Linked DNA regions of Homo sapiens. The protein of the gene in region 1 interacts with the protein of each later gene in a biochemical or structural test. Each region holds a gene or a part of one and is shown in the gene's direction. Other genes may lie near its edges.

Region 1 (5,337 bases):
GCAACGGCAGAGGTGATCTGGGGTGTTACTGATTAAATGTAGTCTTTTAGGAAAGCAGAGATCAAGAGCAGGGAGCAGGCAGACCTAAGTTGGACTCTGGCCCCCAGCCCCCTAACTTCCAGCTCGTCCAAGTCACCTCCTTCTCTAAGACTCAGTTTTCTTGCGTGCAAAGTGCAGGTGAAAGCAGTTGTATTGCTTTGGGGATTCAGTGAGCTATAGTGGCTCTTAGCACAGTGTTTGGTACTTAGCAAGTGCTCAGCAAATGGCAATAGCTGCTGAAGTGACAGTGTCATCACATGTTAACATCCCTATGATGGGTCGTGTGGGAGTAATCACTGTTTTTCTTTGATTCTGCTTAGGGCAAGCAAGCTCCACATATGCGGAACAAACTGGAAAGCTGACCGAATTTGTGTCTAACCTGGCGTGGGATTTCGCAGTCAAAGAAGGGTTCCGGGTTTTCAAAGAGATGCCCTTCACAAATCCGTTAACAAGGTCCTACCACACGTGGGCCAGGCCCCAGTCCCAGTGGTGCCCCACAGGCAGCAGGAGTTATAGCTCCGTTCCAGAAGCTTCCCCAGCTCATACCTCAAGGGGAGGTCTGGTTATCTCTCCAGAGAGCCTCTCTCCACCTGTCAGAGAGCTGTATCACCGGCTGAAGCACTTCATGGAGCAACGTGTGTACCCTGCAGAGCCAGAGCTGCAGAGTCACCAGGCCTCAGCAGCCAGGTGGAGCCCCTCCCCACTGATCGAAGACCTCAAGGTAAAGCAGCCATGGTGAGGTGGTAAGACCCCAATACCATGGCATACCCTCCCCGACCCCACCGGGCTCACCTGAACCATCCCAGGCAGTGAAGATACAGGAGCTCCGAGTTGAATGATCTTTGCTTCCATCGTCTCAGAAAGAGCCAGCTCTTCATGACTCAGTTTCCATCTCTTGCTCTTGCTGTGCCTGTGTCACAGGCAGATGGCTCAGGTGTGACTGCACAGCCCAGGCAGTGGAATGCTTGGCCTTAGAAAGCCAGGGCAGGTTAGGCCTATCTGATGGGTATTTGAATTATGTAAATTTGAAACAGTGCTGTATCAGCTAATAAATCTCTCTCTAGAGAACCCGTAATATCACAGCTAGAGGGCCAGATCCACTGTGAGCTGAGTTTCTGTGTTGTCTCCCAGTGCTGTCACTTCAGCTGATAAACAGAAACACCCGCTGTTCCTTATCACGTGAACCTTGGATTGTGTTAGTTTTGAAATTACTTGAGATCTTCAGGAGCATAATGCAATCATCATCTACTTTTCTTTTTTTCTCTTTTTTTTTGAGACGGAGTCTTGCTCTGTGCAACTTCCGCCTCCCAGGTTCAAGCGATTCTCCTGCCTCAGCCTCCCGAGTAACTGGGATTATAGGCACGTGCCACCATGCCCAGCTAATTTTTGTATTTTTAATGGAGATGGAGTTTCACCATGTTGTTCAGGCTGGTCTTGAACTCCTGACTTTGTGATCCGCCCGCCTCGGCCTCCCAAAGTGCTGGGATTACAGGCGTGAGCCACCATCTCTCTCTTTTTTTTTTTTTTTTTTTTTTTTGAGACAGGGTCTCGCTTTGTCACCCAGGGTGGAATGCAGTGGTGTGGTCATAGCTCACTGCAGTCTCAACCTCCTGGGCTCATGTGATCCTCCCACTTCAGCCTCCTGTGTAGCTGGGACCACAGGCACAGCCACCATGCCCAGCTCCTCATATCATTTTTTTGGGCACACGTGCATGTTTGGTTGTCTGCCTTGTTTCCTCCAATCCCTTTCATTGTTTTCCACGGTTCAAAATAAAATGAAATCTTCCACTGTGGTTTCCTGACTTATTTTCCCCATGATAGGAGAAAGCCAAAGCTGAAGGACTTTGGAACCTTTTCCTACCCTTAGAGGCTGATCCCGAGAAAAAATACGGAGCAGGACTGACCAATGTGGAATATGCACATCTGTGTGAGCTCATGGGCACGTCCCTGTATGCCCCCGAGGTACCTTCTTTAAAGTTTTCCTCAGTGTGTGGGAACATCCTGATCTTCATAAGAACTCAATCCTAAACAGATAAACCAGATTCAGAAGCACTGGCATGAACTTGAACTTTTTTTTTTTTTTGAGATGGAGTCTCGCTCTGTCACCCAGGCTGGAGTGTAGTGGCGAAATCTTGGCGCACTGCAACCCCTGCCTCCTGGGTTCAAGTGGTTCTCCTGCCTCAGCTTCCCAAGTAGCTGGGACTACAGGCATGTGCCACCACACCTGGCTAATTTTTGTATTTTTAGTAGATACAGGGTTTTACCATGTTGGCCAGACTGGTCTCAAACTCCTGACCTCAGGTGATCCACCTACCCTGGCCCCACAAAGTGCTGGGATTACAGGCGTGAGCCACCATGCCCATCCAATTTGAAGCTTGAAATATTAATGTGAGAAGGCCAGGCATGGTGGCTCACACCTGTAATCCCGGTACTTTTGGAGGCCGAAGTGTGGGGGATCACTTGAGGCCAGGAGTTCGACACCAGCGTGTGCAACATAGAACTCTGTATGTACAAAAAAATAAAAAATTAATCGGGTGTGATGGTGCATACCTGTAGTCTCAGCTGCTTGGGAAGCTGAGGCATGGGAGGATGGCTTGAGCTGAGGAAGTCGAGGCTGCAGTGAGCCATGATCGTGCCACGATACTCCAGCCTGGGTGACAGAGCTTGACTCTGTTTTTTTTAGAAGAGGACATGACAGTCATGGTCACGCTCCTTTTCCTTCTCAGGTATGTAACTGCTCTGCGCCTGACACGGGCAACATGGAGCTGCTGGTGAGGTATGGCACCGAAGCGCAGAAGGCTCGCTGGCTGATTCCTCTGCTGGAGGGGAAAGCCCGCTCCTGTTTTGCTATGACCGAGCCCCAGGTACGTCGCCTGGGCTGCCACCCACTTGCCTGGCCCTGTTGTTGTCGGCCCCACAGGGAACACGGGCTGTCTGCTGGCGTCTCTGACTGGAATATGCTCCCCACTCAGGTTGCCTCTTCAGATGCCACCAACATTGAGGCTTCCATCAGAGAGGAGGACAGCTTCTATGTCATAAACGGTCACAAATGGTGGATCACAGGTATTTGGCCTAAAATGCACTTTCCAAATGCACATCAGGGAGTCTGTGCTGTTAGGCGCGTCTCTCAATGCCTGGGAGGAGCCTCTGCTTTTTCAAGTTGACACAAAGGAGATTCTGTCACTTAGCGCCCCCAGCAGAGGCAGCTGGGAGAATAGGAGGGTAATCCGTGGAGCACACTGTTCTCAGAGGTGGCACTTCACAGGGCAGGGACGTCCCCCGGTGCCCACACATGGACGGATGCCTCCCTGCACATGTGACCCCAGGAATCTCTCCACTTCCTGCTGTTCATTCTGCTTTGGGCAGCTCCCCTTCCTTGGTGGCTTCCTGGCTCCTCGATCAGGTGTGTTACATCCTAAGGGCTAATGACAATCCTGACTTTTAGGGATTGTCCAGTGTTACTTTTGCAGGGCCCCTACAAGTAGCCGTGGAGCTTACCTCCCGGAGCCCATACCTCCCTGGACATTAAGAATGAGCATCCCCATTTTGCAAAGGAGGAAACCGCACTCAGACTTAGGTCCCTTGCCTGGGGTATGAGCCCCCAGCCAGCAAGTAGAGAACCCAGAGTCAAAGGTTCACCTGATTCCAAGGCCCGGGCCCAGAGCCGTTATGTGTGCACCACCTGTGGGAGCCGAGCCAGCTGGCAGGGATCAAGTAGCGGTTTTCATCCTCTTGTCTCTAAATTATATTTTCTACTCTATGTGATGCTTTTAAAAACTTGCTCTTATGATGTTGGATTCATTCCTCACTGGGACAAAACCCAATTTGCTCTTATTTCTGGTCAGCAGTCTGCAGATGCTCATCTGATTACATGGAGCCTTAAAGAGCTCTGTCTGCTTCCTTACTGTGCCTTTCTTGGGCCAGGACCACGTGTGTAGAGATTTGATGGCCCTGGTGTCAGATGATGGGGTCTGTCTCTCTCCTTTCCTGGCAGGCATCCTGGATCCTCGTTGCCAACTCTGTGTGTTTATGGGAAAAACAGACCCACATGCACCAAGACACCGGCAGCAGTCTGTGCTCTTGGTTCCCATGGATACCCCAGGGATAAAAATCATCCGGCCTCTGACGGTGTATGGACTGGAAGATGCACCAGGTGAGACCTCCAGGGGCGGGTCACCCCTGGGTGTGGGTCTGGTCCCCAGGAAACACCACTGAGGGGCCCCTGCTCTTGTTCAGGACTTGCCACATCCCACGTCTGAGGGTATGATGACATTTGGAGTCACATGCTCCTGCATTTCATTTCCATACATGAATATCAACCATGCAGGCGGATTTCAGACAGGCATTTATGGATTTTTTTCCCTCTTCTAAACTTAGAAAGTAATCAGGAGTCTGTGACACAGGAAGCCATACAGGGCAGACGCAGGAAGTGGACCCCAAACCTACTCTTCCAGGCCCCAGTGTGAACAGCTGACCTCTAGGCCACAGCCCTGGTTTGGTCCGCTCCCAGTTTGGTTCTCTGCTAATAGTGTTCACATTTTTACTTTCAGTGTTTTCATAGGATCACTACATTGTCACAAACCACTAGGAGCTTCAGCTTAAGGTGGCATTATTATGTTTTTATAAAAGGAATCACAGAATAGTCATTTGCCATTATAAATCAGTGATTCATTTTCTGTGTTTAACAGGCTGTTTCCTGCCGTCCTTTTCCCTTTAACCATGTCCCAGTAAGAAGGCTAAATAAAGGGCAGGGACATTGCCAGCAGATAACCCAGACTGAGGTGAGGAATAAACACATCCAAGGAAAATGACTATGGCTATTGCTCACAGTGATCGTTTGGGTCTTTCAGGTGGCCATGGTGAAGTCCGATTTGAGCACGTGCGTGTGCCCAAAGAGAACATGGTCCTGGGCCCTGGCCGAGGCTTTGAGATCGCCCAGGGCAGACTGGGCCCCGGCAGGATCCATCACTGCATGAGGCTGATCGGGTTCTCAGAGAGGGCCCTGGCACTCATGAAGGCCCGCGTGAGTGCTTTCCCCCGCACCCAGCACTGACTCAGAACCACCACCTTCTGCTTTGCTGTCGGACTTCAATTCCTACCTGTTTTCTGAGTGCAGTCCTAGCAGGTGAAGCAAGGTGATGTCCTTGCCAAGAAGTTGCATTCCTGTCTGCTTTGCATCTGCTACTTTGCTGCAGTTTGGATTCAGAGCAGAATGGACCCCACTCTGTCGAGGTGACCTGAAGGGAAACGCCAGGCTCTGTAGCAGCAGAGGCAAGGTTCCAAGGTGTAAAGGTCATG
Region 2 (5,117 bases), about 100 Mb from region 1:
TGTGGGTAGACTGACCCTACAACTTGTATTCTTCTCCACAGTGCTGCTATTTAGCAGACACAGAAACTTTCATGAGTAAGAGTAGCAAGTTCTGAGTTTTTGACTTTTGAGCTTGGGGAAGATGTGCCTAGAAGGAATGAGTAAACAACGAGAAATTATATGAGGTGCACATTTTGAGTGGGGTATTTGGTGTCTAGGTTATTCTCACTCTACTAATCTGTATGACCTCAGGCAGTGCATCCCCTCTGTAGACCTTAGTTGCCTTGATCTCAGATGTATCCACATGGATCTGATTTTCTGTAGGAATTTCTCAAAGATTGTGAAGGCAGTGTGTTACTCTTTTGATTCTTTCGGTTATTTGACTCTTGTTGGAGTAGGTTCCCAATGCCAAGAAATTCTGGGTCTTGTGGCGATTTAATCTGGCCAACTACCAAATTATAGGTATTTGAGGATAGTTTTTCTCAGCTCTGGGATTTTTTTTCTTAAACTGCCTCATATCTATTGTTAAGTCCTCATGTCTGTTGTAAAAATTCAAAGGTGCTTTGTGTTTTTTCTGTTTTTTTTTTTTTGTCCTTGAGAGGACCATTTCATAGGAATTTGAAATGTTTTCTGTGAATTTGAGGAGCACTTATGGCCAGAATATGCTTTTGCAAAATACTCTAGTTGAGAGTTAGAAGTGTTTGGAGAGTTGAGGAGGTAGTAGTTATTTTTCAACAGAATGGAGCTAAGAATTTCAACTAAGAATGGAACTAAGGAACTAGGAGATCTTAAAGTCTCTTTGAGTATTAAGCATCTCCTTTCCGTCTCCACACTTGAGGCAACAGTCTAATTGGGGCAAATGGAAGAGAAATGCTTCCTGTAAGAGCTAGTGAGCAGAATCTGTATTTAATTTTTGAGAGTCCTTGAAATTAACAGATGGATCTATGGTCAAAAAAAATTGCCAACCATATTTCTTATTACATTATACATTATATATTATATATATTATATATACATTTTACATTATATATAATGTATATATAATGTATTTCTTATGTTATAACGTATTTCTTATTACATTATGTTATATATAATGTATTTCTTATTACATATGTTACATATAATGTATTTATTACATTATATATTATATATAATGTAATATATGTTATGTAATAATTATATATGTCATATATAATTTAATTATATGTCATATTTAATTATATATGTCATAATTTATATATGTCATATATAATTTAATTATATGTCATATATAATTTAATTATATATGTCATAATTTATATATGTCATATATAATTTAATTATATATGACATATATAATGTAATAATTATGTGTCATACATATATGTGTCATATATAATGTAATAATTATATGTGCCATATATAATGTAATAATTATGTGTCATATATAATGTAATAATTACATCATATATAATGTAATAATTATATATGTCACATATAATGTAATAATTATATATGTCACATATAATGTAATAATTATATATGTCACATATAATGTAATAATTATATATGTCACATAATGTAATAATTATATATGTCACATATAATGTAATAATTATATATGTCACATATAATGTAATAATTATATATGTCACATATAATGTAATAATTATATATGTCACATATAATGTAATAATTATATATGTCACATATAATGTAATAATTATATATGTCACATATAATGTAATAATTATATATGTCACATATAATGTAATAATTATATATGTCACATAATGTAATAATTATATATGTCACATATAATGTAATAATTATATATGTCACATATAATGTAATAATTATATATGTCACATATAATGTAATAATTATATATGTCACATATAATGTAATAATTATATGTCACATATAATGTAATAATTATATGTCACATATAATGTAATAATTATATATGTCACATATAATGTAATAATTATATATGTCACATATAATGTAATTATATATGTCACATATAATGTAATTATATATGTCACATATAATGTAATTATATATGTCACATATAATGTAATTATATATGTCATATAATGTAATAATATATGTCATATATAATGTAATAATTATATATGTCATATATAATGTAATTATATATGTCATATATAATGTAATTATATATGTCATATATAATGTAATTATATATGTCATATGTAATAATTATATGTCATATGTAATAATTATATATGTCATATATAATGTAATAATTATATATGTCATATATAATGTAATCATATGTCATATACAATGTAATAATTATATATGTCATATACAATGTAATAATTATATATGTCATATACAATGTAATAATTATATATATGTCATATACAATGTAATTATATGTCATATACAATGTAATTATGTTATATATAATGTAATAATTATATATGTTATATATAATATAATAATTATATATGTTATATATAATGTAATAATTATATGTTATATATAATGTAATTATATATGTTATATATAATATAATAAGTAGTAATTACTTATTATTTATAATTAGGTGTATTCTGAGAGTCTTGATCTTTGTTTTTCACATTTTGACATTTCATGCTCAGATTTTGAGACTACTTTGTTGACATTATTCAGGCAAAGTTTCAGTTAAAATGGAGTAGAAGTTTTTGTACTTTAATACCGAAGGGGTAGTAAAAGCAAGGGTGGTCAGATCTTGAAACTGGGGACAAAGACTGCTAGTATCAGCTAATATTTTCACACCCCTGCCCAAATGTCCCTCTTTAATGCAAATTGGAGTTAGTAGGTTCTCAACAAGAGAGTGGAGTTCCCCCTTGGGAACTGTCCTTGTCATGGGCCAGGAGTGGGGAATAGCAGGGGAAGGTGGTGGCAGACTAACTAGTAAGATTAGTTCTGGACACAGGGCAGAAGGAAAGAACACCGTAGGCTTGTGCCTTCTCTTTGTTTCCTTGTGTTCTTTAGTGCCCGCAGTCAGTCTCCTTGTTTTTTTTTTCTGGCCACAGGATAGTAAAGGGCAAAGTCCTGGAGGATGAAAAACAGTTCAGCACCCTCATTGAGTTTGTTGCCTTGATAGGTTAATTCTGATGTTGCAGCAGTCCCCTTTGTCACTAGAGCTTCTGAGACAGTTTCTAAAATTAGACTGAAAAAACATAGCTACTCAAAGATAATCAAAAGTGAGAAAAGTCAGAATAGTGTTTACTTCTGGGGGCTGGGAGACTGAGGGAGCCTGTGAGGGAACTGTAAACGTTCTGTATCTTGATCCGGGTGGTGGTTATGTGAGTGTATCAAATGTGGAAGTTAATTTAGCTGTACACTTAAGTTTGGTAGACATTATATGGTTTCATATTTGTATATTACATTTCAATTAAAAAATGAAAAAACCCACCAAACATCCATAGGGAAGAGCAGACCTATGTGTCTTTAATTCTAGCCTAGCATTCCACTTCTCTGATTCTCTTGGTAGGCAAATTACAATGAAATAAGGCTCCTTTGGCCGGGATTGTGTGAACTCTGGGTAGAGGGAGAACAGACCAGTGCCTTGGTTAAGGAACAGGAGCCCTTCTGTGCTCCCTTCACTCCTTACTGGCTCCCTGCTGTACTTCTGAGGAAAGTGAAAGCCCTTCCGCTTCCTATTTCTTATTGAAATATCTTGCACTTCAAGAAAAAGAGTTTGGTTCTTAATCCTTTCCTGAGATTCCTTATTTGATCTCCCGTTCCCAACTCTCAGTAAATTTCTGCCCCAGGCTCCTTGAGAATGGGTTGGATATTGAGGATGTTGAAAATTTAGTACTATATTCTTTTGACCAGGGGTTTCTGAGGGAGTCAGCAGAGTTTTGTCTGCTTTGGTGTGGCTAAGAGGGTCAGTTGAATATGGGCATCTCTTTCCCTTTCCTTGATCCCACACTGAATGAACCTGTGTGATTTCCCCACTTCTCTGCTCCTTGCAGACCCCTTGTCTGTGTCCCCTGCCCGCTGGGCTGAGGAATATTTGGAGCAATCAGAGGAGAAGCTGTGGCTGGGAGAACCTGAGGGAACAGCCACCGATCGCTGGTGAGTTCAGATACCTCTTTCCGAATCCCGTGAAAGGAGTATGGACAGTTTTCCCAGCCTCCTCCATCCACGTTCTCGAACCAACTTACTTTATTCTTTTTTTTTTTTTTTTTTATCATTCTTGGGTGTTTCTTGCAGAGGGGGATTTGGCAGGGTCATAGGACAATAGTGGAGGGAAGGTCAGCACATAAGCAAGTGAACAAAGGTCTCTGGTTTTCCTAGGCAGAGGACCCTGCGGCCTTCCGCAGTGTTTGTGTCCCTGGGTACTTGAGATTAGGGAGTGGTGATGACTCTTAAAGAGCATGCTGCCTTCAAGCATCTGTTTAACAAAGCACATCTTGCACCGCCCTTAATCCATTTAACCCTGAGTGAACACAGCACATGTTTCAGAGAGCACAGGGTTGGGGGTAAGGTCATAGATCAACAGGATCCCAAGGCAGAAGAATTTTTCTTAGTACAGAACAAAATGAAAAGTCTCCCATGTCTACTTCTTTCTACACAGACACAGCAACCATCGGATTTCTCAATCTTTTCCCCACCTTTCCCCCTTTTCTATTCCACAAAACCGCCATTGTCATCATGGCCCGTTCTCAATGAGCTATTGGGTACACCTCCCAGACGGGGTGGTGGCCAGGCAGAGGGGCTCCTCACTTCCCAGTAGGGGCGGCCGGGCAGAGGCGCCCCTCACCTTCTGGACGGGGCGGCTGGCCGGGCGGGGGGCTGACCCCCACCTCCCTCCCGGACGGGGCGGCTGGCCGGGCAGGGGGCTGACCCCCACCTCCCTCCCGGACGGGGCGGCTGGCCGGGCGGGGGGCTGACCCCCACCTCCCTCCTGGACGGGGCGGCTGGCCGGGCGGGGGGCTGACCCCCCGCCTCCCTCCCGGACGGGGCGGCTGGCCAGGCGGGGGGCTGACCCGCACCTCCCTCCCGGACGGGGCGGCTGGCCGGGCGGGGGGCTGACCCCCACCTCCCTCCCGGACGGGGTGGCTGCCGGGCGGAGACGCTCCTCACTTCCCAGACGGGGCGGCTGCCGGGCAGAGGGTCTCCTCACTTCTCAGACG

What was found. Proteins that work in one complex are often made in the same cells at the same time.
Region 2: the proteins of ACAD10 (region 1) and PEX5 interact in a test that uses a peptide from one of them, tested with the Homo sapiens proteins (one study listed by BioGRID).

Annotation. Positions count from the first base shown.
Region 1 is NC_000012.12:111,744,284-111,749,620, forward strand, and holds part of ACAD10 (acyl-CoA dehydrogenase family member 10), read left to right. Parts: intron 1-359; coding exon 360-760; intron 761-1,860; coding exon 1,861-2,001; intron 2,002-2,765; coding exon 2,766-2,903; intron 2,904-3,011; coding exon 3,012-3,102; intron 3,103-4,033; coding exon 4,034-4,192; intron 4,193-4,889; coding exon 4,890-5,062; intron 5,063-5,337.
Region 2 is NC_000012.12:7,195,058-7,200,174, forward strand, and holds part of PEX5 (peroxisomal biogenesis factor 5), read left to right. Parts: intron 1-3,953; coding exon 3,954-4,056; intron 4,057-5,117.